3 separate regions of the Homo sapiens genome follow, and regions 1 and 2 are each linked to region 3. Evidence: fine-mapped expression QTL. A gene starts in region 3. Each other region holds a variant in brackets. All regions are shown on one strand. Distances are between the middles of the regions.

Region 1 (10,896 bases), 110 kb before region 3:
CAGGCTGAGCCACCGCGCCCAGCCTCTGATTTTCTTTTTTTTTTTTCTTTTTTTTTTGAGATGGAGTCTCCTTCTGTCGCTCAGGCTGGAGTGCAGTGGCACGATCTCGACTCACTGCAAGCCCCGCCTCCCGGGTTCACGCCATTCTCCTGCCTCAGCCTCCCAAGTAGCTGGGACTACAGGCGCCCGCCCACTGCCACGACCGGCTTTTTTTTATTTTTATTTTTTTGTATTTTTTAGTAGAGACGGGGTTTCACCGTGTTAGTCAGGATGGTCTCGATCTCCTGACCTTGTGATCTGCCCGCCTTGGCCTCCCAAAGTGCTGGGATTACAGGCGTGAGCCACCGGCCCGGGCTCCGATTTCCCTTATTTGGGCCTTCTTTCTTTTTTTCTTAGTCTGGATAAAGGTTTGTCAATTTTATCTTTTCAGAAAACCAACTTTTTGTTTCATTGATCTTTTGTATTGTTTTCTTCATTTCAATCTCACTTATTTCTGCTCTGATCTTTATTATTTCTTTTCTTCTACTTATTTTGGGTTTGGTTTGCTCTTGCTTTTCTAATTCTTCAAGATACATCATTATATCGTTTATTTGAAGTTTTTCTTCTTTTTTGATGTAGGCACTGATACCCATAAACTTCCCTTTTTTGATGTATGTCATAGTTTTTGGTATGTTGTGTTTCCACTATCATTTGTTTCAAGAAAACTTTTTCTTGAAAAACTTTTTTTTTTTTTTTTTGAGGCGAAGTTTTGCTCTTGCTGCCCAGGCTGTAATGCAATGGCACAATCTCGGCTCACCGCAACCTCTGCCTCCTGGGTGCAAGTGATTCTTCTGCCTCAGCCTCCCAAGTAGCTGGGACTACAGGCATGCACCACCATGCCCAGCTAATTTTGTATTTTTAGTAGAGACGGGGTTTCTCCACGTTGGTCAGGCTGGTCTTGAACTCCTGACCTCACATGATCTGCCCACCTTGGCCTCCCAAAGTTCTGGGATTACAGGCATGAGCCACTGTGCCTGGCCAAAACTTTCGTTTTTTTATCTCTTCATTGACCCACTGGTCATTCAGGAACATACTGTGTAATTTCCTTGTGTTTGTATAATTTCCAGAATTCCTCCTGTTATTGGTTTTTAGTTTTATTTTATTGTGGTCAGAGAAGATATTTGATATTATTTCCATTTTTTGAATGTTTTAAGACTTGTTTTGTACCCTAACATAGGGTCTTTCCTTGTGAATGATCCATGTGCTAAGGAAAAGAATGTGTGTTCTGCAGCCATTGGATGAAACGTTCTGTAAATATCTATTAGGTCCATTTGGTCTATAGTGCAGATTAAATCCAATGTTTCTTTGTTGATTTTCTGTCTAGGAGATGTGCCCAATGCTGGAAGTGGGGTGTTGAAGTTTCCAGCTATTGTTGTCTCTCTCTCTCTCTCTTTAGCTCTAGTAATATTTCCTTTACATACCTGTGTGCTCTCATGTTGGATGCATATATATTGATAATTGTTATATCCTCTTGCTGAACTGACCTCTTTATCATTATATAATGACCTTTTTGTCGCTTTTTATAGTTTTTGTATTGAAACCTATTTTGTGTGATATAAGTATAGCTACTCTTGCTCTTTTTAGGTTCCCATTTGCATAGAAGTGGTGAAGTGTATTTCTTTTAGGCATCAGATCACTGGGTCTTGTTTTGTTTTGTTTTGTTTTTAATCCATTCAGCCACTCTATGCCTTTTGATTGTTGAGTGTAGTCGATTACCAATTACTTATTTTATTGATAAGTAAGGACTTATTCCTGTCATTTTGTTGTTTCCTGGTTGTTTTATGGTCTTCTCTTATTTCCTTCCTTCCTGTCTTCCTTTTAGTGAAGGTGATGATTTTCTTGTGGTATGTTTTAATTTTTTGCTTTTTAATTTTTGTGTATCCATTGTACGTTTTTAAATTTGAGGTTACCATGAGGCTTGCAAATAATATCTTCCAAACCCATTATTTTATTTATTTTTTTAAATACAAACTAAGGCTTTTTCTTCAATTATCTCTATCATCCACAGTAAAAGGAAATAAGTCACCTGCAACTGATGCCAAACCCTCCTGCCAATGAGAGATAAGCAGCTCTGGGTAATTTCACATAGCCCAGCAAAGACAGTTTCCTTGAATTCTTATGAAAAATTGGCCCTAAAATCTATCAGGATGACTTATTCATGAGAATCATCTGAGATACCCATTATAAATATAGTTGTCCAGAATCTTAGGTGGTTGTGGGAGAGGAAAGCTCCTGTAATTCTGAATTTTGTGGTTTTTGATTTTTAATTTTTTTATTTCAATAGGATTTTTGGGGAACAGGTGGTGTCTGGTTACATGAATAAGTTCTTTAGTGGTGATTTCTGAGATTGTGGTGCACTCATCACCCTAGCAGTGTACACTGTGCCCAGCGTGTAGTCTTTTATCCCTCACCATCCTCAATCCTTTTCCCCAGGTCCCCAAAGTCCAATGTATCATTCTTATGCCTTTGCGTCCTGATAGCTTAGCTCCCACATATTAGTAAGAATATATAATGTTTGGTTTTCCATTCCTGAGTTACTTCACTTAGAATAATAATTTCCAATTCCATCCAGGTTGCTGCGAATGTCATTATTTCTCTCCTTTTTATGGCTGAGTAGTATTCCATGATGTATACATATATACCATGTTTTCTTTATCCACTTATAGATTAATGGACATTTGGGCAGGTTCCATATTTTTGAAATTGTGAATTGTGCTGCTATAAACATGCATGTGCAAGTATCTTTTTTATATAATGACTTCTATTATCATATAGAAAATGTGATATCACTTCATTTTAAATGGTTTTTATGCAAAAGACAGGCAATAACAAATGCTGGTGAGGATGTAGAGAAAAGGGAATCCTTATACACTGCTGGTGGGAATGTAAATTAGTACAACCACTATGAAGAACAATTTGGAGGTTCCTCAAAAAAACAAAAATAGAGCTATCATATGATCCAGACATCCCATTGCTAGGGAAATACCCACCCTCCCAAAAAAAGGAAATCAGTATATCGAAGAGATATCTGCACTTCCATGTTTACTGCAGCACTATTGACAATAGCCAAGATTTGGAAGCAACCTAAGTGTCTATGAACAAATGAATGGATAAAGAAAATGTGGTACATATACACAATGGAGTACTATTCAGCTATAAAAAAAAGAATGAGAGGCCGGGCACGGTGGCTCACACCTGTAATCCCAGCACTTTGGGAGGCCGAGGCCGGTGGATCATGAGGTCAGGAGTTCAAGACCAGCCTGGCCAAGATGGTGAAAGCCCGTCTCTACTAAAAATACAAAAAAATTAGCCAGGCATGGTGGCAGGTACCCGTAGTCCCAGCTACTTAGGAGGCTGCAGCAGAGAACTGCTTGAACCCAGGAGGCGTAGGTTGCGGTGAGCCGAGATCACGCCACTGCACTCCAGCCTGGGTGACAGAGCGAGACTCCATCTCAAAAAAAAAAAAAAAGAGAGAATGAGATTCTGTCATTTGCAACAACATGAACAGAACTGGAGGTAGTTATGTTAAGGAAATAAGCTAGGCACTGAAAGACAAACTTTGCGTATTCTTACTTATTTGTAGGAGCTAAAGATTAAAACAACTGAACTCATGGAGATAGAGCGTACAATGATGGTTACCAGAAGCTGGGAAGGGTAGTGGGGGAGTGGGGAGGAAGAGGGGATGGTTAATGGGTACAAAAAAATAGAATGAATGAATAAGAGCTAGTATTTCTGCCAGGCACTGTGGTTCACGCCTGGAATCCCAGCACCTTGGGAGGCCAAGGCGGGCAGATCACATGAGGTCAGGAGTTCTGGTCTCGAACTCCTGACCCTGTCTCTACTAAAAATATAAAACATGAGCTGGATGTGGTGGCGTATGCCTATAGTCCCAGCTACCCGGGAGGCTGAGGCAGGAGAATCACTTGAACCCAGCTTGCAGTGAGCTGAGATTGTGCCACTGCACTCCAGCCTGGGCAACAGAACAAGACCTCATCTAAAACAAACAAACAAACAAACAAAAAACCTAGTATTTGCTAGCACAACGAGGTGACTATAGTAAAAAATAATTTAATTGTACACTTTTAAATAATTAAAAGAGTACAACTAGATTGTTTGTAACACAAACGATAAATTCTTGAGGTTATGGATATCTCATTTATCCTGATGTGATTATTACATATTGTATGTCTGTATCAAAATAGCTCGTGTACACCATAAATATACATACCTACTATGTACCCCCAAAAAAGAAACAATGCAAGCAAGAAGACAATGGAACAACATCTTTAAAGAACTGAAAGAGATGGCCAGGCATGGTGGCTTGTGCCTGTAAACCCAGCGCTTTGGGAGACCGAAGTGGGAGGATCACTTGAGCCCAAGAGTTCAAAACATAGGCAGATCCCATTTTTACAAATAAACAAAAAACAATAACAACTGAAAGAGGGCTGGGTGTGGTGGCTCACACCTGTAATCCCAACACTTTGAAAGGCCGAGGCAGAAGGGTCACTTGAGGCCAGGAGCTGAAGACCAGCCTGGGCCAGACAAGGAGACCCTTGTCTCTACAAAAAAAGTTTTACAAAATTAGCTGGGCCTGGTGGCACACACCTGTAGCCCTAGGTACTTGAGAGGATGAGGCAGGAGAACCACTTGAGTCCAAGAAGGCTGCAGTGAGCTACGATCGTGCCACTGCACTCCATCCTGGGTGACAGAGTGAGACACTACCTCTTAAAAAAAAAAAAAAAAAAGGCCAGGCACAGTGGCTCATGCCTGTAATCCCAACACTTCGGGAGGCCGAGGCAGGTAGCTCACAAGGTCAGGAGATCGAGACTATCCTGGCTAACACAGTGAAACCCCGTCTCTACTAAAAATACAAAAAATTAGCCGGGCATGGTGGCGGGTGCCTGTAATCCCAGCTACTCAGGAGGCTGAGGCAGGAAAATGGCATGAACCCGGGAAGCAGAGCTTGCAGTGAGCCGAGATCGCGCCACTGAACTCCAGCCTGGGCAACAAAGCGAGACTCTGTCTCCAAAAAAAAAAAAGAAGAAGAAGAATAACTGAAAGAAAGAACTGCCAAGTTTAAATTATACACCCAGTTTTTTAAAAACCATATTTCAAAAATGAAAATAAAGATGTTTTCAGATTTTTTTTAAATCTGGCAGAATTCATCACTACCAGACTTTAAAAAATATTAAAGGAAGGCCTGAAAGTAGAAGGAAAATGATACCACATGGAAATATTGATCTAACCAAAGGAATGAAGAGTGTCAGAAATGGTTACCACACAGGTAAAATATGTAAGATGTTTTTCCTATTATTTATGTCTCTTTAAGAGATAATTGAGTCCTCAACAAAATATTAATAAATTAAATTCAGCAATATCAAAAAAGAATTAGCCAGGAATGATGGCACATGCCTGTGGTCCCAGCTACTTGGGAGGCTGAGGCGGAGGGATTGCTTGAGCCTGAAGTTTGAGATTACAATTAGCTATGATTTGCACCACTGCGCTCCAGTCTGGGTGACAGAGCAAGACTCTGTCGCTATAAAACAAATAAATAATAAAAAATTCTTTAAAATTATACATCATAACCAAGTTGGACTTATTACAGGTATGCAAGGCCAGTTCAATATTTGAAAATCAGTCAATATAACCCATCATATCAACAGGCTAAAGAA[G/T]AAAAATCAGGCTGGGCAGAGTGGCTCACACCTGTAATCCCAGCAGTTTGGGAGGCCAAGGTGGAAGGATCATTTGAGTCCAGGAGTTCAAGACCAGCCTGGGAAATATAGCAAAATCCTGTCTCTACAAAAAAAATTAAAAATTAGCTGGGCATGGTGGCATGCACCTGAAGCTCCAGCTTCTCAAGAGGCTGAGGTGGGAGGATCACTTGACGCCAGAAAGTAAAGGCTGCAGTGAGCCATGATTGCACCACTAAACTCCAGCCTGAGTGACAGAACAAGACCCTGTCTAAAAAATAAAATAAAATAAAAAAGAAGAAAAGTCATATGACCATATTGATATAGAAAAAGCATTTTACAAAATCCAGTTCCCATTCACGTGCACAAAAAAAAAAAAGTTTCACAAACTAGGATTAGAGAGGAACTGACTCAACTTGATAGAGAGCATCTACCAAAAAACTACAGGTAACAGCATAATTAGTGGTGAAAGACTGAAAGACTGAATGCTTTCCCCCTAATATCAGGAACATGGCATCACCATTCTTTCTTTTTTTTTTTTTTTTTTTGAGACAGGGTCTCACTCTGTCACGCAGGCTGGAGTGCAGTGGCAGTGGCATGATCATAGTTCACTGCAGCCTTTAACTCCTGGCCTCAAGTGATGCTCCCACCTTCTCCTACCACAGACGTACTCTCATCATTCTTATTCAACACAGTACTGAAAGTTCTAGCCTATGCAATAAAGAAAGAAAAACAATAAATGCAGACAGATTGGAAAGAAAGAAATAAAATTGTCCCTATTTGTAGATGACAATTATCTACACAGAAAATCCTAATAAATCTATTTTTAACTGCAATTTTAAAAATTAATAAGGAAGGTCACTGGACACAGAATCAACACACAAAAATCAACAAACATGTAGAAACCAAAGCTGAAAACACAATACCATTTACAATTGCTACAAAGCAAATGAAATACTTAGTTATAAATCTAACAAAACATGTATAAGAGCTGTATGCTGAAAATTACAAAATGTTGATGAAAGAAATCACAGAAGACCTAAATAAATAGAAATACTGTGTTTATGACTTAGAAAACTCAACACTAAAAACATCAATTTTTCCCAAATTGATTTACATAATTCCTATCCAAATTCCAGCAAGGCTTCTTATAGATATAAATAACTTATTCTAAAATTTATATGGAAAGGTAAAGGACCTAAAATAGTTACGACAATTTTGAAAAAGAAGAATGTTGTAAGAAGAATCATTCTACCCAATGTTAAGGCTTACTAAATAACTTCAGTAATCAAGACAGTAGAGTACTGGTGGAAGAATAAATATGTAGATCAATGAAATATAATAGAGGAAACAATAGAATCACAAAAGAATGTACAACTGATTTTTTTAAAGAAAAAAGGTACAAACATGATTTAATAGAGGAAGGACGGCCCTTTCAACAATTGGTGAAGAAAAAAAAAAAGTCTGTAGGCCAAGAAAAAAAAAGAAGAGCCTCATACCTTTTACAAAAATTAACTTAAAATGAATCATTGATTTAAACATACCATGTAAAACTATGAAACTTTTGGAAAAAAAAAAAACAGGAGGAAATCTTCAAAACCTACGGCTGGGAGAACAGTACTTCAACTTGATATCAAAACTATGATCCCAGCCAGGCGCAGTGGCTCATGCCTGTAATCCCAGCAATATGGGAGGTCGAAGTGAGTGGATCACCTGAGGTCAGGAGTTCGAGACCAGCCTGGCCAATATGGTGAAACCCCGTCTCTACTAAAAATACAAAAATTAGCCGGGCTTGGTGGCACCTGCCTGTAATCCCAGCAACTCAGGAGGCTGAGGCAGGAGAATTGCTTGAACCCAGGAGGCAGAGGTTGCAGTGAGCTGAGATCGCACTATTGCACTCCAGCCTAGGCAATGAGAGCAAAACAAAAACAAACAAACAAACAAACAAAAACTATGATCCAGGAAAACTTGATAAATTGGACCTCTTAAGAATTAGAAAATTTTGCTCTGTGAAAGCTCCTGTTAAGAGAATGAAAAGAGCCAGGCATAGTGGCTCACGCCTGTATTCACAGCACTTTGGGAGGCAGAGGTGGGCAGATGGCTTGAGTCTAGCAGTTCAAGATCAGCCTCAGCAACATTTCCAGCAGTTCAAGAAATGTCTCTACAAAAAACAGAAAAAATTAGCTGGGTATGGTGGCACACACCTGTAGTCCCAGCCACGTGAGAGGCTGGGGTGGGATGATCACTTGAGCCCAGGAGGTCAAGGCTGCAATGAGCCATGATCACACCACTGCACTCCAGCATGGGTAACAGAGTGAAACCCTGTCTCAAGAGAATGAAAAGATAAATTACAGACTGGGAGAAAATATTTGCAAGCCAAATATCCAACAAAGGATTTAGTATCTAGAATATAAAGAATTTCCAAAACTCAACAGTAGAAAAGCAAACAATATAATTAGCAAGTGTACTAAAAACATTTCACTGAGGAGTAGATACAGGTAACAAGCTAATAAAAAGATGTTCAACCTCAGTGATTAGGGCAATCTAAATTAAAACCACAATGCATTATCACTACATGCCTAACAGAGTGATAAAATAAAAAATGTCAAATTCTGGCAAGGATATGGGAAAAACTGGATCACTCTTACATGGCTGGCAGGAATGTAGAATGGGATAGCTACTCTGGAAAATATTTTGGCATTTTCTTTTAAAACTAAAAGTGCACTTACCATACAACCCAGCAATTGCACCCTTGGGCATTTATCCCAGGCAAATGAAAACCTATATGCGCTCTGCAATCTATACATGAATGTTGATAACAACTCTATTTATAATAGCCAAGAACTAGATACCACCCAAATGTCCTTCAATGTATAAATGGTTGAAGAAACTGTAGTACATCCATACCACAGATACTACTCTGCAACATAAAGGAAAAAACTACGATAGAATTAGGCCTTGGCTGGTTCTCAAGGGAATTATGCTGATTGATTTTTTTAAAAAGCTACAGACTGTATGACACTACATAAGTGATTCCATTTACGTAATGTATTTGAATAACAATATTAAAAGATGGAGAACAGAAGAATGGCTGCTGGGGTTATGGACTGGGGAGAAAGAAGGTAGATGTGACTATAAAAGCATCAGGGAGGCTTATGGTGATGAAATGGGTCTGTATCTTGATTGTGGTGGCAATTACACAAAGCTACATGTATGATAAAACTGCATAGAACTACATACACACACAAATGAGTGCATGTGTAACTGGTAAAATCTGACTAAACCCTGTGGATTGTACTAATGCCAATTTCTGGGTTTTTGTTTTTCGTTTTTTGTGTTTTTTTGAGAAGGAGTTTCATTCTCATCACCCAGGCTGGAGTGCAATGGCGAGATCTCAGCTCACTGCAACCTCCGCCTCCCAGGCTCAAGCGATTCTCCTGCCTCAGCCTCCCGAGTAGCTGAGATTACAGGTGCCCGACACCATGCCCGGCTCATTTTTGTATTTTTAGTGGAGATGGGGTTTCACTATGTTGGCCAGGCTGGTCTCAAACTCCTGACATCAGGTGATCTGCCTGCCTCAGCCTCCCAAAGTGCTGTGGTTACAGGCGTGAGCCACAGCACCCGCCCAATTTCCTGGTTTTGATACGGTATGTAGTTATGCAAAATGTCAACATTGAGGGAGGAGGGGTGAAGGATGCACAGGACCTTTCTATACATTTATTTGCAATATCCCGTTTATAATTATTTCAAAATAAAACATCTAAAAAAGAAAACTGGCTGTTCAAGCAAAAATAATAGTATAGACTGTGGTTTATAACAAATGTGTAAGTAAAACGTATGACAACAACAGCATAAAAGCTATGAGGAGGGAAACAAAGGTAGACTCCTGTAAACTTATGTTATGTGTGAAGTGATACAATATAACTTGAAGGTAGACTGTGATGAGTTAAAGATAATTCTAACCAGCCAGGCATGGTGGGTCACACCGGTAATCCTAGCACTTTGGGAGGCCAAGGTGGGCAGATGACCTGAGGTCGGGAGTTCGAGACCAGCCTGACCAACACGGAGAAACCCCGTCTCTACTAAAAATACAAAATCAGTCAGGTGTGGTGGTGCATGCCTGTAATCCCAGCTACCTGGGAGGCTGAGGCAGGAGAATCGCTTGAATCCAGGAGGTGGAGGTTGCGGTGAGCCAAGATTGTGCCATTGCACTCCAGCCTGGGCAACAAGAGCGAAACTCCGTCTCAAAAAAAAAAAAAAAGATAATTCTAACTATCTTGGCTGGGTGCCTCAGCTTACATCTCTAATCTCAGCACTTTAGGTGGCTAAAGTGGGAGGGTCGCTCAAGTCCAGAAGTTTCAGACCAGCCTGGGCAACATGGTGAGACTGTTTCTACAAAAAATCAAAAAATTAACTGGGCCTAGTGGTACACACCTGTGGGCCCAGCTACACGGGAGGCTGAGGTGAGAATATCACTTGAGCCCAAGAATTAATGACTGCAGTGAGCTGTGATCACACCACTGCACTTCAGCCTGGGCAATAGAGCAAGACCCTGTCTTTAAATAAAATAAAATGAAATAAAATCTTTAAAAAAAAGAAGAATACAGCTGGAAGACTTATGCTACCTGACTTCAAGATTTATTTAAAAGCTACAGGAATCAAAACAGTGTGGTTTGGTATAAATAAGGAAAATAGATAAATGGAACAGAATATGGAAATCAGAAATAGATCCATACATAAATGGAGAACTAATTTTTTACAAAGGTGCCAAGGCAATCCAATGGAGAAAGGATAGTTTTTTCAAGAAATAGTTCTGGAACAATTGGATATCCACATGCAAAAAAGAAAGAAATGAACTTTGATCCATAACTCACACCATACATAAAAATTAGCTTAAAGCCAGGCACGGAAAAGTATTACCTATTCAAAAATTAAACTAACTAGCTGGGTGCAGTAGCACATGCCTGTAGTCCCAGCTACCTGGGAGGCTGAGGCAGGAGGATCCCTTGAGCCTAGGAATTTAAGAACAGCCTGGGCAACATATAGAGACCCCATCTCAAAAAAAAAATCAATTCAAAATAGAGCATTGACCTAAATGAATAACCTAAAACTATAAAACTTCTAGAAGAAAACACTGGAGAAAAATTTTGTGGCCTTGGGGCAAAGA
Region 2 (7,566 bases), 92 kb after region 3:
TTGCAGTGAGCCAAGATCACACCATTGTACTCCATTCTGGGCAACAAGAGTGAAACTTCATCTCAAAAAACAAAACAAACAAACAAACAAAAAAGCTTAGTCTTGGTGGGGTGCAGCGGCTCACACCTATAATCCCAGCACTTTGGGAGGCTGAGGCAAGAGGATTGCTTGAGGCCAGGAGGTCACGACCAGCCTGGACAGCATAGCAAGACCCCATCTCTACCAAAGAAACGAAAGCTAGCTGTAGATTTGCCCCAAGGGAAGTGTATTGTGACGGTTAGATCTTTGAGTAACTCGAAAACATCAGACCTTGGGATCCATTCAGCCTGAGATTGAGTCTCATTTCTTCCTTTATCTAGTGATGAGAACTTGGACAAATAATCCCTCTAAGCCTCACTTTCCTCATTTAGACTGGATAATAATAGGATTGCTGGGGAGGTCCACTGATGAGAACACATTTTGCACAGTGTCTGCATATAGTGACGCCTCAGAAAATTATCATTGTTATCTCCTTTGCATGGGGAAATGTATTATTTTTATGTGGAAGAAAATGGGTATTTTTCCTTTGTATTGAGAGCTGATGGAACCAGATTTATGTCTTTTTAGACAGGGGCAAGTGTCCGAGTGGTGAATCAGCTACTTACAGAGATGGATGGTCTGGAAGCACGCCAGCAGGTTTTTATTATGGCAGCCACTAACAGGCCAGGTAAGAAATAAAAATATTGTAACACAGATGAATCTAAAAACTTACAGCATTTCCGTAGAAGAGATTCAGATAATTAAAAATAAAAGTAAAAACTAGTAGCATTTATAAACAATATAATTCACATGCATCCTAGGAAAGGAAGATTAAATTTGGGCAATCCATTTTTGGTTCTGTGAAAGGAAACTTCATAGTTGAAATAAAGGCTTAGAAAGCTTTTGCATAAGCTATAGTAAAAAGTATAGTATTACTGCTTGGATCCCATGAGATTGCTTTTCTGTGTCGGTGCTTAGAAAGCTCTTTTTGGCTGAGAACAGTTGCAGCATACACTTTTTTTTTTTTTTTTTTTTGAGACAGAATCTCGCTCTGTCACCCAGGCTGGCATGCAGTGGCATGACCTTGGCTCACTGCAACCTCTGCCTCCTGAGTTCAAGTGATTCTCCTGCCTCAGCCTCCTGAGTAGCTGGGATTACAGGTGCTGCCACCATGCCCGGCTATTTTTTGTATTTTTAGTAGAGATGGGGTTTCGCCATGTTGGCCAGGCTGGTCTTGAACTCCTGACCTCAGGTGATCTGCCCACCTCGGCCTCCCAAAGTGCTAGGATTACAGACGTGAGCCACTGCACCCGACCAGCATACACTTTTGACCACAAAAGTATTTTCAGAATTTGTGTTTTGTGGTTTCTCTCTAGCTTATAGGAAACAAAAACGAGACTCTTCACTCTAGTAGAAGTTAAAGATAGATTTTTAGGATTTTATGCTGGAGCCATGCCCCTATATCTGCCCTGAATAATTACTGAAAATTGTTTTCAAGGTTAAGCATTCTTTGAGGGATTCAGAAAAGGGCTCAAGACTACAGAAGTGCAGAAGATGGCTCGGAGTTACAACTCTAATCACATGCTTGATCTTTCTGGTGATCAGTCCCCTGCCCGAAGCTATCTGTGGGGCCACTATGCGTCACCACATTAGCTCAACAAAGATATTCCTGGCACTCAGGAAATTGCAAGGATTTTTGAAGATCTATGCCAGGAAAGGTGGGCAAAGACCAGTTATATTCTGTATTATACCATAGTAACCTTGGGACTATATTACTTTATCTTGCTGACCATCATTTTGGCACTTTTTAAATGAAGATGATAATACTTAATTGGCAGGATTGCCACAAAAGTTAAATGATGTTGGTAATGTATCTGCCACAGTGGTGTTAAACAGCACGTAGCTATTTAGTAATTGTTATCATGTTCATAAGCAGTTTGGTAATAGTAGTGGGAACAGTCATTAGGTCATAAAATCACAGAGTCATCCTAGAAGAAAGTCCCTCAGAGTTGAACAGAATCACATCGTCCCTTTCATAAGCAGATACAGATCTTTTCTCACATATTTCAAGAAGATGCTTGTCTTAGTCTGTTTTGTTTTGCTGTAACAGAATACCTGAAACTGGGTAATTTGTGTTAAAAAGAAAAGAGATTCAGTTCTTCTAGTTCAGGAAGCTGGGAAGGTCAAGGCTGAGTGGCCTGCATCTGTCAAGGGCCTTCTTGCTGCATCACCCCAAGGCGAAAGGGTAGAAGAGCACAAGAGCATGCATGAGAGAGCAAAAGGAAAGTGGCCTGGACAGGAAGAAACCATGGTCCCATGAGTAAAGGTGGACAAATAAAGTTTAATTAATTTTACCCTATCTTTGGACATTTATCTCAACTGCCTGAGCTAAACAACTGTTTTCTTCAGCCTACCAAAAAGCATTTTGTATAGCAAAAGATTAGTTTCACTGGAGGAAGTCTGGAGAAGAAAGAAGCAGAGAGAGGGGGGATCCTGGGGAGTAGGAAATGAGGGCCCTGTTTCTCTCAAAAAAGCCTCATTGAAGAAATACATTGATCCAGTTTTTTCCAGTATATGATCATCCTTTTTAAAGTGAGGAGCATAAATTAGTAAGGATGGGCTTAATATCTGTTAGTGGTGAGACAGAAAATGCTAAAATTATTATCTGTTTAATTGTTTGTACTATCTGGTTTTGATGTATGACTTGTCATATGTGCAGTATATTAATAACATCATACAGAAACATAGTTAACAAATGAGTAGACATTAAAAAAGAAAGAAAGTGGCCAAGCTGGGCATGGTGGCTTATGCCTGTAATCCTAGCACTTTACGAGGTTGAGACAGGAGGATCGCTTGAGCTTGGGAGTTTAAGACCAGCCTGGGCAACATAGTGAGACCTTGTCTCTATTATTTAAAAAATAGTGAGAGTGGCGAAACATATCCTTTTATCAAGAGTCCACTCCTGTAATAACTTACCCACTCTCTTGAAACCAGCATCATTCATGAGGGCAGAGCCCTCATGACCTAATCACCTTTTAAAGGTCCCACATCTCAACACTGTTTTATTGGGGATTAAGTTTCCAACACGTGAAATTTGGGGAATACGTTCAAACCACAGCATCAATCTTTCGTTTCCTGTAATAACCTATTCTATCGTTAACAGCCCGCACCATATTTTAAGTTTGTTTATTTTATTTTATTATTTATTTATTTATTTTGAGACAGAGTCTTGGTCTACTGCCCAGGCTGGAGTGCAGTGGTGTGATCTCAGCTCCTTGCAACCTCTGCCTCCTGGGTTCAAAGATTTCTTCTCCCTCAGCCTCCCAAGTAGCTGGGACTACAGGCACGTGCCACTACGCCTAGCTAATTTTTGTATTTTTAGTAGAGACAGGGTTTCACCATGCTGGCCAGCCTGGTCTCGGCTCCTGACCTCAGAGGATCTGCCTTCCTCGGCCTCCCAAAGTGCTGGGATTACAGGCATGAGCCACTGCGCCTGGCCTGTTTATTTTAAAACCTGTGTTAAGAATGGCAGAAATGGCAGATGAATCATAATGTGGTACCGGTGTTTTGTTTTTTCCCTATGTGTGTATATTGTCTTCCCCTAAAACTCTTCCATCCTTTTTTCCCCTGTAACAAATCTGTTGCATTAACGACCTACATTTAAAAATAAATGTTCTGGCCGGGCACGGTGGCTCACACCTGTAATCCCAACACTTTGGGAGGCCGAGGCCGGCGGATCACAAGGTTAGAAGATCGAGACCATCAGCTAACATGGTGAAACCCCGTCTCTACTAAAAATTAAAAAAGATTAGCCGGGCATGGTGGCACACACCTGTAGTCCCAGCTACTTGCGAGGCTGAGGCTGAGGCAGGAGAATCACTTGAACCCGGGAAGCGGAGGTTGCAGTGAGCCGAGATTGCACCACTGCACTCCAGCCTGAGTGACAAAGCGAGACTCTGTCTCAAAAAATAATAATAATAATAAACGTTCTAGATCTTCTTCACTTGTTTTCATGCTTATTTGGCAGTTCTGCTCCATTGTATACTATCACGTGACATTGTTTTGATTGCTTATAACTTCTCTGCTTAGCTTTAAGAATTCCCTTCTTGCTTGATGTTCTGGTTAGCCGTTGCTGCATAACAAACTACTGTAAAGCTTAGTGCTTTAAAATCACCATTTGTGGCTGGATGCAGTGACTCACACCTGTAATCCCAGCACTGTGGGAAGCCAAGGATCACTTGAGGTAAAGAGTTCAAGACCAGCCTGCTCAACATGGTGAAGCTCCATCTCTACTAATAATACAAAAATTAATTGGGCGTGGTGGTGGGCGCCTGCAATCCCGGCTACTCAGGAGGCTGAGGCAGGAAGGAGAATCACTTGAACCCAGGAGGCGGAGGTTGCAGTGAGCCCAGATAGCACCACTGCATTCCAGCCTGGGCGACAGAGTGAGACTCCATCTCACAAAAAAAAAAAAAAATCACCATTTTTATTTGGCTCACAATTTTTAGGTCAGGAATTTGGGATGGGCTTGTCTGGGTGGTTCATCTTGGATCCACGTACTATCAGCTGGAGTGGCTGGACCAGA[G/T]AATCCATTTCCACAGTGGCCTCTTTACTCACAATGTCTTCACAATCCTTGGTCTCTCTCCCAACCCGGCTGCCAAATAATTATAATCTTTTTGGAGTTTGTTTGTTTGTTTGTTTGTTTTTGAGACGGAATCTTGCTCTGTCGCCCAGACTGGAGCGCAGTGGCATGATCTCGGCTCACCGCAACTTCTGCCTCCCAGGTTCAAGTGATTCTCCTGCCTCAGCCTCCCGAGTAGCTGGGATTACAGGCATGTGCCACCACACCCGGCTAATTTTGTATTTTTAGTAGAGATGGGGTTTCACCTTGTAATCTTTCTGATGTTTTTACTTTATACATTGAAAAATGTTTAAGAAGCAGTCTATAAACTTTCTGTATTCCAAAGAAGTCCTTGACACAAAAGATACTCTGAGCCAGAAGATCTACAGTCCATGGAGAATTTGTGTGAGCTTAATGGGAGAAGTAAGAAGTGGTAAAATTTGAGACACATTTTGAAAGTAAAACTAATAGGATTTTCTGGAATTAGATGTGGGATAAGAGAAAGAAAATAAATAAGGGCTATTCTTATTGTTAGATTGTTTTACCTATACTGGGTAAAATGTTTTGCCACTTCTGAGATAGGGGACACTTGGAGAAAAAGGACACTTTAGAAAAAGACCAACTTTTCTAAAATGTCTGTTCAAGGAGATGAAAATAAGTTTATTTCATTTTCTTTACAAGTCCATATTATTTAAAACAATCACCAGTAATAACAACTAGGTTCTTGGAGCACCTACTAAGTGCCAGGCCCTCTGTTGGATGCTTTACCATTGTAAACCTCACAACAGCCCTACGAGAAAACTACATGTGTGCAAAAGTTGAACCTTGGTGAGTGATATGGTTTGGCTCTGTGTCCCCACCCAAATCTCATCTCCAGTTGTAATTTTGACATATAGAGGGAGGGACCCAGTTTCAAATCAAATGGCAGGAAAAGCTTATAACAAAAACTGTAGTTTTCTCTCCCATCCCTTCTAATCCCCTGCCCAGAGGCAACCACTTGAGCTATTTTTTTCCTTCATATTTTCAAATATGCTCTTATGGCTATTTCTTATCAATTTTAAACACTGCCCATTAACTTCATTTTAAGGTAGATGAAGATTTAGTTATCTTATGTTCACCCTTTCTCCATACCCTCCACTCCCACCATCACTGCCACATCATCTGTCCTCTTCCCCATTCTCCCAGTATTGTAATATAGTTTGATCAGAACTCTTGGTTAAGTCACTAGTGTTTACATTACTATGGCTGTGTCACTATTTCTCTCTGCTGACCCAAGCATGACACTGATTAGGTTTCCTTTCTCATATAACTCTTGTCCTTGGATTCAGTGGCCCTCATTTTTTTCTTTTGCTTTGTTTTCTGTTACTGTTCATCACATATTTTATACAGCTGTCGATGTTATTTATTCAAACGATGTACCAGTTCCATTTGTTTGTTTGTTTCTGGAGACCTCCCTCTGGAGCTTTCCACCTTCCTGGCTCTAATCTGGACTGGTTGCTTTAGGCCTGTGGTCTAAACAGCTGTTATTTCAGGACTTCCTTGACTGTTCTCCTTTGTTTGCCCTTTTTTTCTGATCTCATGGGTTTTTTGTGTGTACTTTTTTTATCTTGCTTACACCCTCATTTTGCTGGTACTTATCTTTCAGTGGCTTTTCTAAGAAAGATTATGTAGGAAGTAGATTTTTTTGACTGCTTGTATATTTGATTTGTTTTTCCAAATGTGAGACCATCCCCCATAGTTCTTTTATATTTAAAAATATCTTTATTCCACCCTAATTTTGATTAGTAACCTAGCTGGGATATAATTTTGAGTTTAAAATTATTTTTCTTCATAATTTATAGACATTGCTTTTTTTCTTTTAAAGGTTCCATGTCATTCTCATTCCTTCTATGTGACTTTTTGTTTGTTTGTTTAATTTGTGTGCTTAGCACTTGGATCTTAAACCCTCCTGGACTGATCTCCTAAATGTCCTCTTTTTTCTTATTTTTCATCTTCTTGCCTTTAATTTTTTTCCCAATTATTGAGGTATTAATGCTTAGAAAGTAAATGAAAATACTGTCCTCTCACCATTCCACCTTTGGTTATTCTGAAGAACTGGGACAGCCCTCTTCTTTTATTTAATTTATTTATTTGTATTTTTGAGACAGGGTCTCACTCTATAGCCTAGGCTAGAGTGCAGTAGTGCAATCACCACTCACTGCAGCCTCAACCTCCTAGGCTCAAGAGATCATCCCACCTCAGCCTCTCACGTAGCTGGGACTACAGGCACGCACCACTACACCCAGCTAATTAAAAAAAAAAAAAACTTTTTTGTAGAGATGACGTCTCACTATGTTGCCCAGGCTGGTCTCAAACTCCTGGGCTCAAGCGATCCTCCCACCTCAGCCTCACAATGTGCTGGGATTACAGGTGTGAACCACCGTGCATAGCCCTAGCCCTCTTCTAATGTGTGCTATATCAAAGTCCACATCTTCTTCTGGAAATAAGCGAACTTCCTTTTGCTTAACCAGAGGAAATGCAGTTCTTTGTACCCTAACCTTAGTCTCTCCTATGCACATCTTTGCATTCTCTTTTTCACATACCAACTCCAGTAAACGATGTTCTCAGTTAGGGAACTACCTGTTCCCCCTTAATCTATTATCTAGCTGTTTAAAAAAGATATTCCTGCACAATTATGAAACCCAAATATCTTATTACTTTCTCTTCTACTCAATAATTACGTATTTTCTACCAGTAGTATAATCCAGAAAGAGTTTCTGCCTTCTATGCATGGCTCAGTTGAAAAAATAAATAAGGGCCAAGTGTGGTGGCTCACACCTGTAATCCCAGCACTTTGGGAGGCTGAGGCAAGAGGATCTCTTAAGGCTAGGAGTTCAAGATTAGCCTGGGCAACAAAGCAAGACCCCATCTCTACAAAATAAAAATTA
Region 3 (10,896 bases):
CCAGCCTAGAACCCTGTACTCTGACAACTATGAATCAAGTGTAAAGATAAGACATTTTCAAACATGGAAGGCCTCAAAATTTAATTGGCAGTTACCTTATCTCAAGAAGCTACATGAGGCTGGGCGCAGTGGCTCACAACTGTAATCCTAACACTTTGGGAGGCCAAAGAGGGCAGATCACTTGAGCCTAGGAATTTCAGACCAGCCTGGGCAACATAGTGAAACCCTGTCTCTACAAAAAAATTTTAAAAATCAGCCAGGTATGGTGGCACACACCTGTAGTCCCACCTACATGGGAGGCTGAGGTGGAAGGATCGCTTGAGCCTAGGAGGTCAAGGCTGCAGTGAGCCATGATCGCATCACTGCACTCCAGCCTGGGCAACAGAGTGAGACTCTGCCTCAAACAATCAAACAAAATTTATGAAAATTTTTAAAATATGGAGCTTAGGCCAGGCATGGTGGCTGACACCTGTAATCCCAGCACTTTGCCAAGACAGCAGGATTGCTTAAGGCCAGGAGTTCAAAGCCAGTCTAGATCACATAGCAAGACCCAGTCTACAAAAAAATTTAAAAATTAGCCAGGTGGCTGGGCACGGTGGCTCACACCTATAATCCTAACACTTTGGGAGGCTGAGGCAGGCGAATCACTTGAGGTCAGGAGTTTGAAACCAGCCTGGCCAACATGGTGAAACCCCATCTCTATGAAAAATACAAAAAAAATTAGCCAGGTGTGGTGGCAGTGCCTGTAATCCCAGCTACTTGGGAGGCTGAGGCAGGAGAAACGCTTGAACCTGGGAGGCAGAGGCTGCAGTGAGTCCAGATCACACCACTGCACTCCGGCCTGGGTGACAGAGTGAGACTCCATCTCAAAAAAAAAAAAAAAAAAATTAGCCAGGCATGGTGGCATGCGCCTGTAGTCCCAGCTACTCAGAAGGCCGAGGCAGATCACTTGAGCCTAGGAATTCAAGAATAGCCTGATCACCACTGCAAGAAACCTTCTCTCTCAATAAATAAATAAATAAATAAAGAGTCATACATTAAAAAAAAATTATTTTCTCGGTAAACTACACAAGAAAGGTCTTCTTTCATTCAACCAAAGACAGACTTGAGCTTTTTTCCGTGAGTGGGAGGAGGGAGTTCCAACGCAGAAGACAAAAACAATTACCCTCATGATGAACATTTCCCTACTCTGAGTAAAGATGCTATCCGCTGTAAACAAGAGACAAGCAACATATAAAGAAACAAAATTTCAAGTCAGATCTTCTAGCATAATTTCATGATCTAAAATATTGTAAAACACAGCAGTTCCATCAAATTTCCAATGAATAAGAGACAACATGTACTCTAAAATCAAAAATACATCTGTTATCTATAATAATCTTAAGTATGGAAAATGACCTGGCTTCAATGCCAGAGAATGAGCAAAGAAATGTCTTACCTTGTTTAATTTTGAGCAACATGATCTAGCATTAATGTAATCACATTCTAAATCAGACAATGTAATTATCTGATGATCAAGATAAGGAATTATTATATTTCTTTTATAATAACTAAGTATTTAAGTTTCAGAAAGCAATCCCAGTTACAAGGCAGAATTAGATTTGACTTGAAAAAAATGAGTTGTTTCCTAAAGTTTGCTCATTAGACAACTCAATTTTCCCATTCATGTTCCTTCAACAAATTATTTTACAAAATAATCCTATTTTGCTCAAATCTAATCTGACCCAACCAGAACATTTAGTTTGAGTTCTTCAAATGTAAAACAATGGCTATTAAAAAAAAAAAAATGGGAAATATCCCAGCACTTTGGGAAGCTGAGGCAGGAGGATCGCCTGAAGCAGGAGTTCAAGATCAGCATAGGCAACATAGCAAGCCTCCATCTCTTTCACCCAGGCTGTAGTGCAGTGGCGCAATTCCAACGCACTGCTACCCCTGCCTCCTGGGTTCAAGCAATTCTTGTGCCTCAGCCTTCCAAGTAGCTGGAACTATAGGTGCGCGCCACCACCACACCCAGCTAATTTTTTGTATTTTTAGTAGAGACGGGGTTTCACTATGTTAGCCAGGCTGGTCTCGAACTCCTGGCTTCAAGTGATTCACTCACCTCACCCCCATCTCTACAAATTTTTTCTTTTTTTTTCATTAGCCGGGCATGAGCACCTGTAATGCTAGCTATTAGTAGCAGTACTGCTAAGGTGAGGCAGCAAAATGCCTAGAGCCCAGGATTCACGTTACACTGAGCTATAATCACACCAGTGCGCTCCAGTCTGAGCAGCAGATTTGGTAGGCACTTGTAGTCTCAGTTACTTGAGAGGCTGAGGCAGGAGAATCGCTTGAACCCAGGAGATGGAGGCAGCAGTAAGCCAAGATTGCGCCACTGCACTCCAGCCTGGGTGACAGTGAGACTCTGTCTCAAAAATAAACATGAAAATAAAATAAAGTCAAACTCATCACTTTCTCCACAGATTGATCTTCCTCCAATTTGTTTTATTTCTGTTACTGACACAAGTATCACTTGCCCAGGATCAAAATATGGAAAGCTATCTCTGCCTTCTGTTTCATATATCATAATCACTCATTTGTAGGTCCTGGCAATCATTTCTTCTAAATACTACTCACATATTCCCTCCTTTCACCTGCCCACAACCAGCACTCTATTTGAAATCCAGACGACCCTATCCAGTTGGTTTATCTTCCAATCTTTCTTGTTTCCAACCCACTCGGCAGATTCATCTTCCTAATAAACTACCGAAAATAAAAATTTTCAATGGCTCTCTATTGCCTGCAGGATAAAAGTGAAAGACTTCCCTCCCACCCTTAACATTCAAGCCCTCCAAAATCTGATGTAATCCTGCCTTTCCAACTTAGCCTTCTACTGACGCCAAAATCAACCATGTGCTCCAGATGGTCTATTCGTTAACCATAGCCCAGAAATCCACGAACATACCTGTCTCTGCACCTTCGCTCTTGCCAGTGTCTGATTTGGAATATTCACCTCTTCCCCTTCCTGTAGATTTTGTCCACAGTTCAAAGTCCAAGAAAACTCTTATATCCTATATTAAGTCTACCGTGACCATTTTCCACCTCCTATCCCTAAGTTAGTGCAACTATTCTAAAATACAGAATATGCTGAATTTCATCAAAACACCCCCCGAATGTATTTTAATGTAATGTCTAAGTCAAACATTCCACCTACCATTTCTCTAAATGCATAAATTGGTGTAAACCAGGGCTATTTAAAATTATCAAGCCTGGTTTTCCAAACTGCAAAAAGAAAAAACCCAGCTACATTTCTGAGCATAAGCTCTAGTTCAGGGGTGTCCAATCTTTTGGCTTCCCTGGGCCACACTGGAAGAAGAATTGCCTTGGGCCACACATAAAATACACTAATACTAATGATAGCTGATGAACTTAAAAAAAAATCACCAAAAAAGAATCATAATGTTTTAAGAAAGTTTACAAATTTGTGTTGGGCCACATTCAAAGCTGTCCTGGACCACATGCAGCCCGTGGGCCGTGGGTTGGACAAGCTTGCTCTAGTTCCTTATATCACAAGAGGGGCATAGAGGTCATCAAAACTTAGGCAAGTGATGCTGCCCTTTCAATCAGCTCCCCAAACCTACTAAAACTCAGAAATCTTGTCGTTAGATATCATCAAAGTAAAAACTGCTGCTCAATTGGGGAGGGTGGGGACACGAAGGCAGAGCAATATTTACTGAACATTAGCTATGGGGCAGGCACTGTGCTAGGGTGCTCAGCACCATTCTCATTGTGCATATCTAGGAAATAAACATTTCCTATTTTAAAGATCAGAAAACTGAGGCTTAGGGAAATAATGTGCAAGCAAAGAGCTAGCTGACCAGGAAATCTGATTCCAAATTTTGTCCCTTTCCACTACAACAGGATGCCAGTCCACAATGAAAAATGAAGCTGCACTGAACATATACTCTGTACGACTATCCTAAAGCCCGCATGCTCTAGCAAACAAATGGTTTAATCCGATCAGAAACAGGTACATGTGATTTCCAAGAAAGGAAGCTGAAATGCGGAGTTCCTCATACGTTTTTTCTTATATTTAATTACTTAAACCTGGATGGTGCAATACAACATTGGGCAACAACTAAGCCTAGATGCTTTGTCAAGAGATGGGAAGAGTTGTAGCCGACATGGCTACTGCAGTGCTAAATTCAACCACCATTTATTGCTCTGGAAAACAGTTTGAATACTGCAACTTAAGTTTTAACATGGATCGATAGAAAAATTTAAAAGCTGAGAAACGATTGGGAACTACAGCAGATGTAGTTATTGAATTTACAGATCTGCAACCACCGGGGACAACCAAAATAATCACTTTGTAGACAGTTGTTAAAACAACTCCTTTCCAACACTCACTACAAAACGGCACAGTGAAGGAAGCAACTTCGCTCCTTTGGCGAATGAGTCAACTCCTGGATGTGAAAGGTCCCTGCAAGTACTAACACCCGCCAGAACAAAGGGGCGGGTGCCGGGGGTGTTGCGTGGGGAACAGGAGGAGGCAAATGGCCCGCACTTATCCCGGCACCCGACTGTCGCAAGCGACCGCCCTTGGGACCCCCAATATCCGACGAAGAGCACGGCGCAGGGCCTCTCCCAGAAAAACAGCGACGCTTCTCTCCCGAGGGCGGCCGTGGCTCAGGCAGGGCTGGTCCGGGCGCCGCGGGGACGAGCGGAGAGCAGGCGGGCAGGCCGAGACGGGGCGCGCCCGGAGAGGCCCACTCGGACCCGAGTGAGGGGCGGCCGGCAACCCAGGCAGGGCAAGTGCGTGCAGGGCAGCAGGGCCCGTCGGGTAGGGCAGCCAGCCTCTCCTACCCGCTCCGGGGCCCGCGCCACCGCCCCGGCCAGGCCAGCTCCCAGGGAGCCCACGCCCGCCGCCGGGCGCCTCCCTAGTCCCACACACCTGCCCGGGTGCCCAACTGGCCCACCCTCAGCCGTGTCCCCCGGCAAGGCGTTCGCCTGCCTCAGGCAAGGATACGAAGTAGACCGAGAGGAAGATGAGCGCGCAACAATCGAGGAGAGAGAAGACGAACACCACCGCCTCCATCCTCCTCCTCCGTCGCCGCCGCTCCTTCCGTCAAACCCGCTCGGATGCCCCGACCCACCCCTGATAGGCCCTTGCCGGGGCTGGCTGAGGCGTGTGGTCCTCGAATCCTGGTGTGGCATGCCGGGAGTTGTAGTCCATATTTTAAAAAACTCTACGGCCCTAATTCTGACGCATGCTGGGAATTGTAGTTCATTAGTACAAGTCCATATCAAAGAGGTGGGCAGGGCCTCTTTCATAAATCCGATTATTTCCAGAAATGGAATTAATCAACAAGTATTTACTCAACGCTTTTCTTTTAAAGAGCTGGGGTCTTGCTCTGTCGTCCAGGCTGGAGTGCAGTGGCGTGATAGAGCTCACTATGACCTCGAATTCCTGGGCTCAAGCAATCCTTCCACCTCAGCCTCCCGACATGCCCAGCTAATTTTATTTTATTATTTCTCATTTTATTTTATTTTTTGAGACAGGGTCTCACTCTGTCGCCCAGGCTGGAGTGCAGTGGCATGGTCACAGCTCACTGCAGCCTCTACCTCCTGGCCTCAGGTGATCCTCCCACCTCCGCCTCCTGAGTACCTGGGATTACAGGAATGTACCACCACGCCTGGCTAATTTTTTGTATTTTTAATAGAGATGGGGTTTTTGCCATGTTGCCCAGGCTGGTCTCGAATTCCTCGGCTCAAGCGATCTGCCTGCCTCAGTCTCCCACAGTGCTGGAATTACAGGCCTGAGCCACTGCACCAGTCTCTACTGAACGCTTTTAATCCGGATATCCAGTAGGATGTATTTCCCATGTGTGAAATTTTCTTTAGAGTTGGCTCTAGAACCATTGCATTCCCTGACTTAGGATTTGTAAGGGGTTTTCATCTCAAAGCACAAATCTAACTTAATGCTCCTGGCTTGACTTTTGCGATTTGCCCTTCCCTTCCTGATTTCAATTTCTCCAGAGATTTCACAGTCCTTTGTTTATCCTCTCCTACAGCAATGTTTCTCTCCTCTCTAGATTTTAAGATCTTTAAGAAGTGAATACGATGTCTTACTCATCCATTCATTCATTTAACAAATACAGTTGTATTTGCAGGGGCTACTTTCCAAGACCCCCAAGTGGATGCCTGACACGATGGATAGTACCAAACCTTATGTGTACTATGTTTTTTCCTATATATACATACCTATGATAAAGCTTAATTTATAGATCAGGCACAGTAGGAGATTAACAAGTAATAATAAGATAGAACAATTATACTGTAATAAAAGTTATGTAAATGTGGTCTTTCTGTCTCAAAATATCTTATTGTACTGACCCTTCTTTTTGAGATGATGTATGATGATAAAATGCCTATGTGATAAGATGAAGAGACAGATGCAGCCTCTCCAGTGATTTTTATATTTTTCAGTCCAAATCTATTCTTACATTCATGTAACTATCCATTACTTGCAGTAAGTGGCTTGGTATCACTCGTTTTAGGGAATCCCTCACTGAAGTCTTTGTATAGGCTCAATACTTTCTGGCTCAACACGTTGCCATCAATTGGCACATGTTTTCTGTTCATGTCTTCCACCCACAAATGTAATGCCTCTTCCATCTTTTTTGTGGTTGTTGTTTTAGTTTTTCTGAGATGAAGTTCACTCTGTCACCCAGGCTGGAGTGCAGTGGCGCCATTTCAGCTCTCTGCAACCTCCACCTCCCAAGTTCAAGCGATTCTCCTGCCTCAGCCTCCGGAGTAGCTGAGATTACAGGTGCATGCCACCACACCCAGATAATTTTTTGTATTTTTAGTAGAGTTGGGGTTTCGCCATGTTGGCCAGGCTGGTCTCAAACTCCTGGCCTCAAGTGATCCACCTACCTTGACCTCCCAAAGTGCTGGGATTACAGGCATGAGCCACTGTGCTGTGCCGCCTTTTCCATCTTAACTAAGCACTTATCAGGCACTGTGGCCATAACTTTTGTAGTCTGAGTTGCAACAGCAAAACTAGCACAAATTCCTTTTTCCTTTTTCAGAAATTCACAGATAAAAGACTGGTTCTTACCATAGATCTTAGCAGTCTCATAGGGTTTTTTTTTCTTTCCTTAAGTCAAGAACTTTGACCATTTCACTTAAAGGGAGCACTTCATGGCTTCTCTTTGGCATATCTGAATTGCCAGTATTCACTGCTCTTGAACTTTGGGCCATTGTTAAGTACAATAATGGGTACTTGAACATAAGCACTGCAATACTGCTGCAGTCAATCTGATAACTGATAAGATGGCTACTACGTGACTAACAGGTAGGTGGCATAGACAGCATGGATATGCTGGACAAGGGGATAGATAATTCATGTCCCAGGCAGGATGAAGTGAGCAGCAGGAGATTTCATTACACTCCTAAGAGTGGCACACAATTTAAAATTCATGGATTGTATATTTCTGAAATTTTCCATTTAACATTTTAGGACTGTGATTGACCTCAGGTAAATGAAACCAGTGAAAGCAAAACTGTGGATGAGACTGCTGTATTTACTGACAACACACCTGCTATAGGCCAAGAACTGCTCTAGACTCCAGAGATATAAAAATAAACAAGGCAAACAAGTTGCTGCTCTAGTAGGGTGAGTGGGAGGAACAGGCAATAAAGTATAACAAAGTATGGGAAAAAGATAACTTCAAGCAGTGATAAGCTCTGTGAGCGGTTGTGTCAAAGTTATTTATTCATTCAACCAATATTTTCTGAGCAGCCAGAATATATGAGCTACTGTTCCAAACCTTGGGAAAAGTCCCCACAAGCCTGTGGTTTACATTACAGTGAGAAAGACAGACGACAAAATAAATATACTAATGACAGGCAGTCATAAGTACTTGGAAGGGGATGGGGAAAGACGGAGTGATCAGAGAAAGCCAAGCTGAGGAAATGACACTTAAGTAGAAATTTGAACAATAGCTATGTGAAGGTCTGCGGGCAGAATGTTTCAGAAAGTAGGAACAATAATTTCAGAGGCCCAGTTGTATATAGAGGCTTGATGTGTTAAAGGAATAGAAAAAAAGACTACTGTGGTCTTGTGGCTAAAGCACAGGGGAAAAGGGTGAGAGAGTGCTGAGAGGAAGAGAAGGAGGCAGGGTAAGGTTATATGGGCCCTGTAGACCCTTGGCAAGGATTTTTATCCTAATATGATGAGAAACCACTGCAGAGTTCTAAGCAAAAAAGTAGCTTAATCTGATTTACATTTTTAAAATCTCATTCTGGCTATTTAGCGCACTGAATGTGTGAAAGGGAAACAAGTTTGTCAGCAGGGAGATCACATGGAGAGTAGAACAGGAGAATTACTATGAAGGCAAAACCAACTGAGCCGGGCGCGGTGATTCACGCCTGTAATCCTAGCACTTTGGGAGGCCGAGGCGGGCGGATCACCTGAGGTCGGGAGTTCGAGACCAGCCTGACCAACACGGAGAAACCCCGTCTCTACTAAAAATACAAAATTAGCCAGGGGTGGTGGTGCATGCCTGTAATCCCAGCTACTTGGGAGGCTGAGGCAGGAGAATCACTTGAACCCAGGAGGTGGAGGTTGCAGTGAGCTGAGATTGCTCCATTGCACTCCAGCCTGGGCAACAAAATGAAACTATGTCTCAAAAAAATAAGCAAACAACAACAACAAAAAACACAAAAACCCAACTGGATTTGCCTGATGCAGTACAGGTTCATAGATTCATAAAGGGTTCACAGGTTAAAGCTAGACATACAATTAACAGATTATCTAATTAATTAAACCAGCTATTACCAAACTCCCATTGTACCTTGTACATATCTCTATCAGAATATTCATTACATACTCAGTTATCTTAAGGTGAAAAAAAATACTCATCAACTATCTTCCTTATGTGCTTAGCCAGTCACACTGAGGGGTGACAGCGTGCTGGCAATCGTCACAGCCCTCACTCGCTCTCGCTCGCTCTCGGCGCCTCCTCTGCCTGGGCTCCCACTTTGGCGCCACTTGAGGAGTCCTTCAGCCCGCCGCTGCACTGTGGGAGCCCCCTTCTGGGCTGGCCAAGGCCGGAGCCGGCTCCCTCAGCTTGCGGGGAGGTGTGGAGGCAGAGGCGCGGGCGGGAACCGGGGCTGCGTGCTGTGCTTGTGGGCCAGCGCGAGTTCTGGGTGGGCGTAGGCTCGTCGGGCCCTGCACTGGGAGCTGCCAGCCGGCCCCGCGGGCCCCGCCGGCCCTGGGCAGTGAGAGGCTTAGCACCTGGGCCAGCAGCTGCTGTGCTCAATTTCTCACCGGGCCTTAGTTGCCTTCCCGCCGGGCAGGGCTCGGGACCTGCGGCCCGCCATGCCTGAGCCTCCCCGACCTCCGTGGGCTCCTGTACGGCCCGAGCCTCCCCGACGAGCGCCGCTCCCTGCTCCACGGCGCCCAGTCCCATCCACCACCCAAGGGCTGAGGAATGCCGGCGCACGGCACGGGACTGGCAGGCAGCTCCACCTGCAGCCCCCGTGGTGAATCCACTGGGTGAAGCCAGCTGGGCTCCTGAGTCTGGTGGGGACGTGGAGAACCTTTATGTCTAGCTAAGGGATTGTAAATACACCAATTGGCACTCTGTATCTAGCTCAAGGTTTGTAAACACACCAATCAGCACCCTGTGTCTAGCTCAGGGTTTGTGAATGCACCAATCGACAATCTGTATGTAGCTACTCTGGTCGGGACTTGGAGAACCTTTATGTCTAGCTCAGGGATTGTAAATACACCAATCGGCACTCTGTATCTAGCTCAAGGTTTGTAAACACACCAATCAGCACCCTGTGTCTAGCTCAGAGTTTGTGAATGCACCAGTCCACCCTCTGTATCTAGCTACTCTGGTGCGGATGTGGAGAACGTTTGTGTCTAGCTCAGGGATTGTAAAGGCACCAATCAGCACCCTGTCAAAACAGACCACTGGGCTCTACCAATCAGCAGGATGTGGGTGGGGCCAGATAAGAGAATAAAAGCAGGCTGCCCCAGCGAGCAGTGGCAACCCACTCGGGTCCACTTCCACAGTGTGGAAGGTTTGTTCTTTTGCTCTTTGCAATAAATCCTGCTGTTTGTCACTCTTTGGGTCCACGCTGCCTTTATGAGCTGTGACAGCGCGAAGGTCTGTAGCTTCACTCCTGAGCCAGTGAGACCACGAACCCACCGGAAGGAGGAAACTCCGAACACATCTGAACATCAGAAGGAACAAATTCCAAATGTGCCACCTTAAGAGCTGTAACACCACGAGGGTCCGTGGCTTCATTCTTAAAGTCAGTGAGACCAAAAACCCACCAATTCTGGACAGAACACGTTTGATCAAGCTTGTTCAGCCCATTGCCCATACGCCACATGTGGTCCAGAACGGCATTGAATGCAATCTACCATAAATTTATAAACTTTATTAAAACGTTATGAAATTGTTTTTGCCATTTTTTTTATTTCATCTCATCAGCTATCATTAGTGTTAGTGTGTTTTATATGTGGCCCAGGACAATTCTTCCAGTGTGGCCCAAAGAAGCCAAAAGATTAGACACCCCTGCTTTAGATTATGATAAAAGTAACAGATTTTATTAATTTTTATATCCCAATACTTTCTATTCTATAAATAGCTGGTGGTTAATAAATGGTTCCTGAATGAATGATCCACACTATCATGACAGATTTTATTTATATTAGTCCAGATTTTATCAAAATCATAAACCTCATCTCACATGTATTCCCCGAGATGGAGTAGGAAATACAAGCTATTTCGCATTTTTTTTTTTTTTTTTTTTGAGGCAAGAGTCCCACTCTGTCGCCCAGGCTAGAGTGCAGTAATGCCATCTCAGCTCGCTGCAACCTCCGCCTCCCCAGTT

The links. PIP is the estimated chance that this variant, and not a neighbour inherited with it, causes the effect.
Region 1: its variant is the best candidate, but not a certain one, in a credible set for the expression of CNIH4 in pancreas (GTEx, PIP 0.61).
Region 2: its variant is the best candidate, but not a certain one, in a credible set for the expression of CNIH4 in whole blood (TOPMed, PIP 0.54).

What each region holds. Positions count from the first base shown.
Region 1 is chr1:224,464,206-224,475,101 of GRCh38, reverse strand. It overlaps a transcript of CNIH3 not described here. Among named protein-coding and RNA genes, the nearest start is that of WDR26, 35 kb to the right of the region's middle. RefSeq lists a silencer at 943-1,112. The variant G/T (reference allele first, on the strand shown) is at 5,712.
Region 2 is chr1:224,261,174-224,268,739 of GRCh38, reverse strand. It overlaps NVL (nuclear VCP like), which reads left to right. Exons shown (of 23, transcript NM_002533.4): 18 at 607-706. Among named protein-coding and RNA genes, the nearest start is that of MIR320B2, 7.8 kb to the right of the region's middle. The variant G/T (reference allele first, on the strand shown) is at 4,604.
Region 3 is chr1:224,351,106-224,362,001 of GRCh38, reverse strand. CNIH4 (cornichon family member 4) reads right to left here and starts at 5,123. Exons shown (of 5, transcript NM_014184.4): 1 at 5,009-5,123; 2 at 1,439-1,507. The coding sequence starts at 5,077. RefSeq lists enhancers at 4,273-4,773, 5,331-5,470 and a silencer at 4,681-5,050.